2 linked regions of the Homo sapiens genome follow. The protein of the gene in region 2 binds, or shares a complex with, the protein of the main gene of each other region. Each region holds a gene or a part of one and is shown on either strand. Other genes may lie near its edges.

What was found. The genes of interacting proteins can lie anywhere in the genome.
Region 1: LAMTOR2 (region 2) and FLCN share a complex: the UniProt entries of both Homo sapiens proteins name them as parts of the lysosomal folliculin complex.

The regions. Positions count from the first base shown.
Region 1 is NC_000017.11:17,229,974-17,234,168, forward strand, and holds part of FLCN (folliculin), read right to left. Parts: intron 2,929-4,195; 5' UTR 2,815-2,928; intron 1,910-2,814; 5' UTR 1,821-1,909; intron 1-1,820. UniProt on the Homo sapiens protein: Multi-functional protein, involved in both the cellular response to amino acid availability and in the regulation of glycolysis.
Region 2 is NC_000001.11:156,053,349-156,057,581, reverse strand, and holds the start of LAMTOR2 (ragulator complex protein LAMTOR2), read right to left. Parts: upstream 2,801-4,233; 5' UTR 2,693-2,800; coding exon 2,625-2,692; intron 2,320-2,624; coding exon 2,157-2,319; intron 1-2,156. Other genes in the region: UBQLN4 (ubiquilin-4), read left to right, coding at 3,881-3,988. UniProt on the Homo sapiens protein: As part of the Ragulator complex it is involved in amino acid sensing and activation of mTORC1, a signaling complex promoting cell growth in response to growth factors, energy levels, and amino acids.

The DNA of each region.
Region 1 (4,195 bases), on a different chromosome or scaffold from region 2:
GCAGCATGAGGCAGTATGCCTTCCTAACGAATGCAGGAAAGCCAGAGAAGGCTTTAAAATGGGGGTGTGTCATGGGGTTCTCACTGGCAGAGAAGTTCTGGAAACGAGACCGCAAAAGCAAAGGTGCACAGTGGGGACAGCCACAGCCAACAGCCTGACATGTGACACAGCCTGACACATGCAGCCAGACCCACATTGTCCATACGGTGGCCACAGCTATGTGTGACAACTTAAATTTAAAATTTAAATTAGCTAGGAGAGGCCGGCACAGTGGCTCATGCCTGTAATCCCATGAGCCTGTAATCCCAACACTTTGGGAGGCTGAGGCGGGTGGATCACTTGAGGTCAGGAGTTTGAGACCAGCCTGGCCGACGCAGTGAAACCCTGCCTCTACTAAGAATACAAAGATTAGCCAGGTGTGGTGGTGTGCGCTGGTAGTCCCAGCTACTCAGGAGGCTGAGGCACGAGAATCACTTGAACCTGGGAGGCAAGGTTGCAGTGAGCCGAGATCGCACCACGGCACTCGAGCCTGGGCAACAAAGTGAGACTCAGTCTCAAAAAAAACCAAAAACAACAAAAACAAAACAAAATAAAACAAAAACCTTAGCTGGGCGTGTTGGCGGTCACCTATAAACCCAGCTACTTGGGAGGCTGAGGGAGGAGAATCACTTGAACCTGGGAGGCGGAGGTTGCAGTGAGCCAAGACTAGGTCACTGCACTCCAGCCTTTATGACAGGGCGAGACTCCATCTCAAAAAAAAAAAAAAAAAAGTAGCCTGGAGTGGTGGCGCACGCTTGTAGTCCCAACTACTTGGGAGGCCTAGGCAGGAGAATCGCTCGAACCTGGGAGGTGGAGGTTGCAGTGAGCTGAGATCGTACTACTACATTCCAGCCTGGGTGACAGAGTGAGTGAGACTTCGTCTCGAAAAAATTAAATAAATAGGCTGAGTGCGGTTGTTCATGCCTGTAATCCCAGCACTTTGGGAGGCCGAGGTGGGCAGATCACTTGAGGTCAGGAGTTCAAGACCAGCCTGGCCAACATGGCAAAACCCCATTTCTACTACAAGTACAAAAAAAATTAGCCAGGCATGGTGGCGCACACCTGTAGTCCCAGCTACTCAAGAGGCTGAGGCGGGAGAATTGCTTGAACCTAGGAGGCGAAGGTTGCAGTGAGCCAAGACTGCGCAACTGCAGTCCAGCCTGGGCGACAGAGAGACTCCGTCTCAAAATAAATAATGAATTAATTAATTAATATATTAGCTAGGACAAAAGCTCAGCCCTTCTGTCTCACCGGCCATGTCCTGAGTGTTTGCTAGGCACACACGACTCACGCCACCCCTCTGAATAGCCCAGGTCACAGAATATTTCTGCCTTCCCAGAAAGCCCCATTGCTTTCTGGGTGTGGCTGGCAGGGAATGGAGGGCTGGTGCTCAGTAGGTGCACTCCGAGAGGGAGGCAGACAGGCAGCGGGAGAGGAAACAGAGTTTCAATAAAGGGCCCAAGTCAGACTTGCTTGGGACGATGAAGAATCATGTAAGTTTCTGAATGTTTGACTGAGTAGTGGACACTGGCCAGGACCCAAAGCCTCTTCTCTTCTGGGGAGCCCCCACCCCTGTTACGGATCCAAAAGTCAGACGTTCTGTCTTCGCTCCTGACAGGCAGGCTGTGAACACAAACAAGGCATGGCCTGCCAAAGCCGCTAACTCTAGGAAGAAGCAAAGGACGATGTGCATGGTGGTGGGGGGTGCTGCAGCCAGCCTCTCTGCCGGCGGCCCATGCCTGGAACTGCTTCTTCAGCATGCCTGCGAATGCACCACCCACCTGACGTTTCTGCAGTTGGCTGCTTAGCTGCACGAGCTGCTCCGGCACCTGTCCTCCTGCTGAGATACGGCTGAGCACGAGTGGTCACACTGGGAATGGCAGAGGCAGACAGAAAACAGACATTTGAAGAGAACCTTAGCTGGGCTGGCAGTGAGGCAGGTGTGGGAGTCAGAGAGGGAGACCCTGGGTGTGGCTGGCAGGGAATGGAGGGCTAGTGCTCTGTAGGTGCACTCCGAGAGGGAGGCAGACAGGCAGCGGGAGAGGAAACATACGCATTTAACAGATGGCAGAACTTCTAGCTGGAAGGCCCTGAGAACTCAGCAAAGATGCAGGCTGCAGGACAGGAGAGGGCAGGGCTGGGGACAAAGGTCAGGAATGCTCCACACACCGTCACCTGGCTCACTCCTCACCACTCGGCCTCCACTTGCTCCCCTGCTCAGAGTACCCCTTGCCAGCCCACCAGAAGAGCTCCCCTCCACCCCGACACCCTCCCCTGCCCTGCTTTGAGTCGTAGCGCTCCTCATCGCAGAACTGCGCCTCCAAAGTGCCTTCCTGACACACAGGAAGCGCCACATTCACGTGTTAGATAAATGAGAGGACTGAGAAGTCGCCCTTGGAAAGATGACAGCTGTTGCCAAGAAAGGGGCGGAATCTAGGGGCGGCAGAGGTTCAGGAGCCACAGCTGTGGGGAAGGCCGGAGCCAGAGTCTAGTGGCACAGGAACCAAACAGACAGTTTCAATAAAGGGCCCACAGGGTTCACTATGATGAGTGGCTTAAAAATCTACTGCTCAACAGGAGATGGGGCGACCACTGATGGAGTAAGGGGTAGCAGGACCCAAAGGAAAGGTAAAGGCATTAAACTGCGAAAAGGAAGGCCACGCCTTTCTCTGAGAGGCATCAGGGGAAGAGAAATAAGGTTCCTTCTAGCAAGACATGCACAGGACAGCAAGCCTGGGCCAAGTCTCAGCCCACCTGCAGAGCACCCACACTAACCTGACACTCAGCAGAATCACGCTTCCACCGTCCACACCAGACCACCACACACGAGGCTGCTGCCAAATGGGTCAGGCATGGTGGTGGCAGACACCCTTGAAGACCTGGCGTTTTCTAGGTAAGAGAAAAAAAAAATTAGAGCTATTTCTAAGATTAGAGGCCTTCGTAGCATGAAAAATAATGGGAGCAGCTTACAGCCAGTCTCAAATAAGAACGTGTCTGATGAGGATGTAGACACTCCCCAGGGTTCTGAATGGCTTAGCAGGCCTCTGACCTTCTCAGCAGGAGCTGACATTTTAGCTGAACTCTTGCACCTCTGAGGCACTCTAAACCAGTATTTGATCAAGGATCTCTGTATTTATTTTTTTAGAGATAGGGTCTTGAGGCCAGCTCAGTGGCTCATGCTTGTAATCCCAACACTTCGGGAGGCCAAGGCAGGAGGATTGCTTCAGCCCATGAGTTTGAGACCAGCCTGGGTAACACAGTGAGACCCTGTCTCTACAAAAAATTTTTAAAAAAAATTAGCCAGGCCGGGCGCGGTGGCTCACGCCTGTAACCCCGGCACTTTGGGAGGCCGAGGTGGGCAGATCAGGAGGTCAGGAGATCGAGACCATCCTGGCTAACATGGTGAAACCCCATCTCTACTAAAAATACAAAAAAAATCAGCCAGGCATGGTGACAGGCGCCTATAGTCCCAGCTACTCGGGAGGCTGAGGCAGGAGAATGGCGTGAACCTGAGACGCAGAGCTTGCAGTGAGCCAAGATCACGGCACTGCACTCCAGCCTGGGCGACACAGCAAGACTCCATCTCAAAAAAAAAAAAAAAAAAAAAAATTAGCCGGGCATGCCTCTAGTCCAAGTTACTTGGGGGACTAAGTTGGGAGGTCACTTCAGCCTGGGAGGTCAAGGCTGCAAGTTCCCATCTTTCCTTTTTTTTTTTTTTTTTTTTTTTTGAGACCAAGTTTCACTCTTGTCACCCAGGCTGGAGTGCAATGGCGTGATCTCAGCTCACTGCAACCTCTGCCTCCCAGGTTTAAGTGATTCTCCTGCCTCAGCCTCCTGAGTAGCTGGGATTACAGGTGTCTGCCACCACACCTGGCTAATTTTTGTATTTTAGTAGAGACAGAGTTTCACCATGTTGGCCAGGCTGGTCTCGAACTCCCGACCTCAGGTGATCCACCTACCTCAGCCTCCCTAAGTGCTAGGATTACAGGCATGAGCCACTGCATCCAGCCAAGTCCCCATCTTTCTTACTCTTGGTTATAAGGGGGTGCTCTGGCAGCATCTACATCACACCAACTTACTTTTCAGGCCATAGGCCTGGCAGTTTCCTTCTCAAGCAGGAGAGGGAAACCAGAGGCAACGCTGACAAGCCACTTCC
Region 2 (4,233 bases):
CTGGTATTTCTCCTCTTTTCCCATGGTAATGTTTTTCAAATTGCAGATTTGACCCCACAGTTAGGAGATAAATTAAGAAGGTTGATCAGCATTAAAAACCAAAAAAGAAAAAATGAAGTATATTACATGTAGTAGGAAAAGTATTGTTTCATGACTTTTGTTTTAGTGGGTCTATGTGTGTGTTGAGCTCTGACTTAAAATGTCTTTCTTAAAAAATTTTTTCCTATTTATTTATTTATTAAAATTTTTTTTGTAGAGATGGGGTCTTATTAGGTCACCAAGGCTGGTCTTGAACTCCTGGCCTCAGATAATCCTCCAGCCTCAGCCTCCCAAAGTGTTGGGATTACAGGAGTGAGGCACTGTGCTCAGCCTTAAAATGTATTTCTTTTTTTTTTTTTTTTTTTGAGATGGAGTCTTGCTCTGTTGCCCAGGCTGGAGTGCAGTGGCGTGATCTCGGCTCACTGCAACCACTGCCTCCTGGGTTCAAGTGATTCTCCTGCCTCAGCCTCCTGAGTGGCTGGGATTACAGGCACGCACCACCATGCCCAGCTAATTTTTGTATTTTTAGTAGAGATGGGGTTTCACCATGTTGGCCAGGCTGGTCTTGAACACCTGACTTTGTGATCCGCCCGCCTCGGCCTCCCAAAGTGCTGGGATTACAGGCATGAGCCACCATGCCCAGCCCCTTAAAATGTATTTCTTATGGCTGGGTTGTGGTCAAAACGTTTGAAAGCTATTGCCCTATAGCACCAGCTCTAGGCATCCAGTAGGAGTCATATGTTGAACTAAAAATGGCATTGGTTGTGCAGGGGGTAGGGGAGAGTAGGCAGTTGAGTTACAATGAAGATCCTTCCTGGAGAGTTCACCTTCTGGCCAATTTGAAAAAAACAAAAGTAAGTTCAGCAAACTTTTACTAGGTATTTATTGTATGCCAGGAACCAAGCACTGCACTCCCTGCCTCTCTGACCTCATCTCCTACTACCCTCCTCCATCTCACGTAACTCCAGCCATACCAACCAACCCTGTTGATCCTTGAGCAGGCATAATTCTGCCTCAGGGCCTTGGTACTTGCTGTTCTGTCCAAAATATTCTTCCCTCAGATAACCACATGGCTTGTCCCCCACCTTTCTTCAGATCATTGATCAAATGTCACCTTTTCAGTGAGACTGTCCCTGACACATACACCCAACAAACTCATACTCTTTCACTTCCCTGCTTTCTCTCCATTGCATTTTCAATACCTAATATATACTATATATTTTACTTATTTTAAAAAATGTGGCCAGGCACAGTGACTCACGCCTGTAATCCCAGCACTTTGGGAGGCCAACGTGGGTAGATCGCTTGAGCCAGGAGTTTGAGACCAGCCTGGGCAACATGGCAAAACCCAGTCTCTGGAAAAATGCAAAAATTAGCGAGGTGTGGTGGTGCATGTCTGTAGTCCCGGCTACTCAGGAGGCTGGGGCAGGAGGATCACCTGAGCCCAGGGAGGTCGAGGCTGCAGTGAGCCGTGATTGTATCACTGTGTAAGATTTATTAGGGCTGGGGGTTTTGTCTTTCTGTTTGCTATTTTTTCCCTAGTCCTGAGAATACTGCAAGGACCTAAATACTTGTCGACCGAACAGATACTAAGAAGTTCACAATCTAATGGTGACTTCCCCTTTCTGGACTTCATTTTCCTTTCTTTGAAAGCTTAAGGGGTTGGACTAGGGTCTGGAGACTGCCATGGTTCTGTGAGTCGGTGAAACTGGGATGACAACACTTTGTGTTTGCACGTCATTCTACTGTTTATACCCATTATTTCATCTGACCTTCACAACAACCCATGAGGGGAGCGGGGAGAGGGAAATTATTGTCTTCTCCTTAAACATGAGGTAAGGAAGCTGAGAGAGGTTAAGCGACTTACCCAAGGTTCCACAACTGATAAGTGGATGGCTGAGACCAGAACCCAAGTCAGACCTCTCAGGTCCAGGGATCCTTCCTCACCACCACTTGATGAATAGGGTCCTGCCTATTACAAATGCTGCTGCAGACCAACTCTTAGTAATCTTCCGGAGATCCTGTCCCTGCCCCTCCAACCATCCAGGATGGGGTCCAGGTCGCCCCCTTGGGATCCCCTTTGGGGGACAGGGGAAGTCTGGCTCCCCTCTCCATACCATGCAGTCCATGAGGATGAATTTGAGATTGTCTTCATTAAACGCTTGGTTCCCGTTCCGGTCGTAGGCGGCCCAGATGTTACTGGCTATGGCAGCGGTGACCCGGGCGTCAGTGTCCCCGTAACCAGAGTAGGCCAGCAGTGATCCCTCGTTATTCAGCAGCCTGGTGAGGGGCGGGGAGGGATAGCGATGTGCTCAGAGCGGGGAGTAAAACGTCTGGGTTTCCATCCCAAGTCCCACCAAGGGCACATCCAGCAAGGCTCTGGCCTGAGCGTGTCCCGGAACATGCCCTAAGCACCCAGCACACCGGCTTCCCTTTTCGACAGGGGACCTCCCGGCCGGTATCCCCAGCCGCTGCCCCCTCTGCCGCTTCCTCCCTTCCTGGTGATCCTTCCCCACCCCTCCCTCAGGGAGCCGCGCGCCGCCCCACTGCAGCGCTCGCCGCTCGGGTCCGTGGTCTGCACTCACAGGGTGCTCTGGACGCCTCCAGTGTTGGCTTGGCTTAGCACCTGGGTCAAAGCCTTGGGGCGCAGCATGCCTACGGTTCCTAACCCTGGGCTTTTGCACCCAGATCTCCGAGGTGCCTCCCGCGGGCCGCTGCCCGCTGCTTCCCGTAGTCCCGTTGGCCTGCTCCGGGACGCCCTGGGAGTTGTAGTTTCTTCGCCTGGCTATTGTGGTTCCGACTCAACCCCGCCCCACCGCGGGGGGCTCTGGGAATCGTAGTTCTTTGTGGCCTCGCGAGGCACCCTGGGAATTATAGTTCGCCTTTCCAAGCCGACCACGCGGTTGTTGGGGGGCGGAAAAGAACGGGAGTGAAAGGACAGCAGCAGCGCTGGAAGGACATTTAACCCCTTCGGGGAGAAAGGAATCAACGTGTCCGCTTGGCAGTCCACGATTCAATAATTATACTACATCCTCATATTTGTCAGGCACGCCTTTGGTTACTTTCAAAACAGTTTTCTCCGTTATGCACAATTCTGTGCGATGAGGCGAGAGGTACTATTATTATTATCTTGAGGAAACCAAGGCTCTGAAAGGCCACGCAGCCAAAACCCAGCTCCCTGGAACCGTTCTTAATAGACCATTCAGGCCGCGACCCTCGGGGCTATAGGGTCAGTCCCAGAGCTGAGAACCTAGGTGGACGTGCTTGGTGGGAAAACCCAACCTCCAAGTCGGGAAAGTCCCCTGGCCTGGAAGGGACTTGGGCTTCCAAGAAAGACCAAGTTATCACAGGGAACGGAGATAAAGCGGCGACACAGAAAGTCCTTTGTCCCGGAGCCGAGTTAGCCGCGGAGGGGGCGGGGAGGCTTTGGGCTGGAGGGGACCGCGGCACGGCTCGGGCGGGCAGCGTTGGGTCGCGGTCTCCCGGGGCAGTCCGCCCTCGCCCCCGCAATGAAGGGCACGCCCCTTCCCCCTCCCAGAGGCCCCCCAGGGGCCCCCGCCTGGCGAGACCCTGGCCGGGCTCCGGACCTGGGGCTTGGCCCTGGGCGGACCCCGCTGCAGTGGCCCCCCCGGTCCGCCCGGGGCGCTGTGGCTGCGGCTGGTCCGGAGGGGGCGGTGAAGCCTCGGGGAGGGGAGGGGAGGAGAGAGGAGGGGAGGGGAGGGGAGGGGAGAGGTGGAGAGAGGGGAGTGTTGGAGGCGCAGAAGCCGAGCCGGGCCGGCCGGGCGGGCGGGGAGGAGGAGGAGCCGGGCGGGCTGGCGGGCGGCCGGGTGGCGGCGGCGGCATGGCGGAGCCGAGCGGGGCCGAGACGAGGCCCCCCATTCGGGTCACCGTCAAGACCCCCAAGGACAAGGAGGAAATTGTGATCTGCGATCGAGCCTCGGTCAAGGAGGTAGTACAGCAGGCGGGGGGCGGGGGGAGCGCGGAGGAGGGGTCTGCGAAGAGATGGGGGGCCTCTCTGACGGTCCGGCGTCCCGGAGGGCCCCGGAGAGGAGGGCGGGGGCCGGCTGGGACTCCGAGGAGCTGAAGGCAAGGAGAGGCGGGTAGGGGGCGCCCTGCGAGGGGAGATCTGGGGGAGCGTGGCGCGTGTTGAGGGGCGGGTTTTGCCTTGTGGCCTGGGGGCGTGGTGGAGAGTGA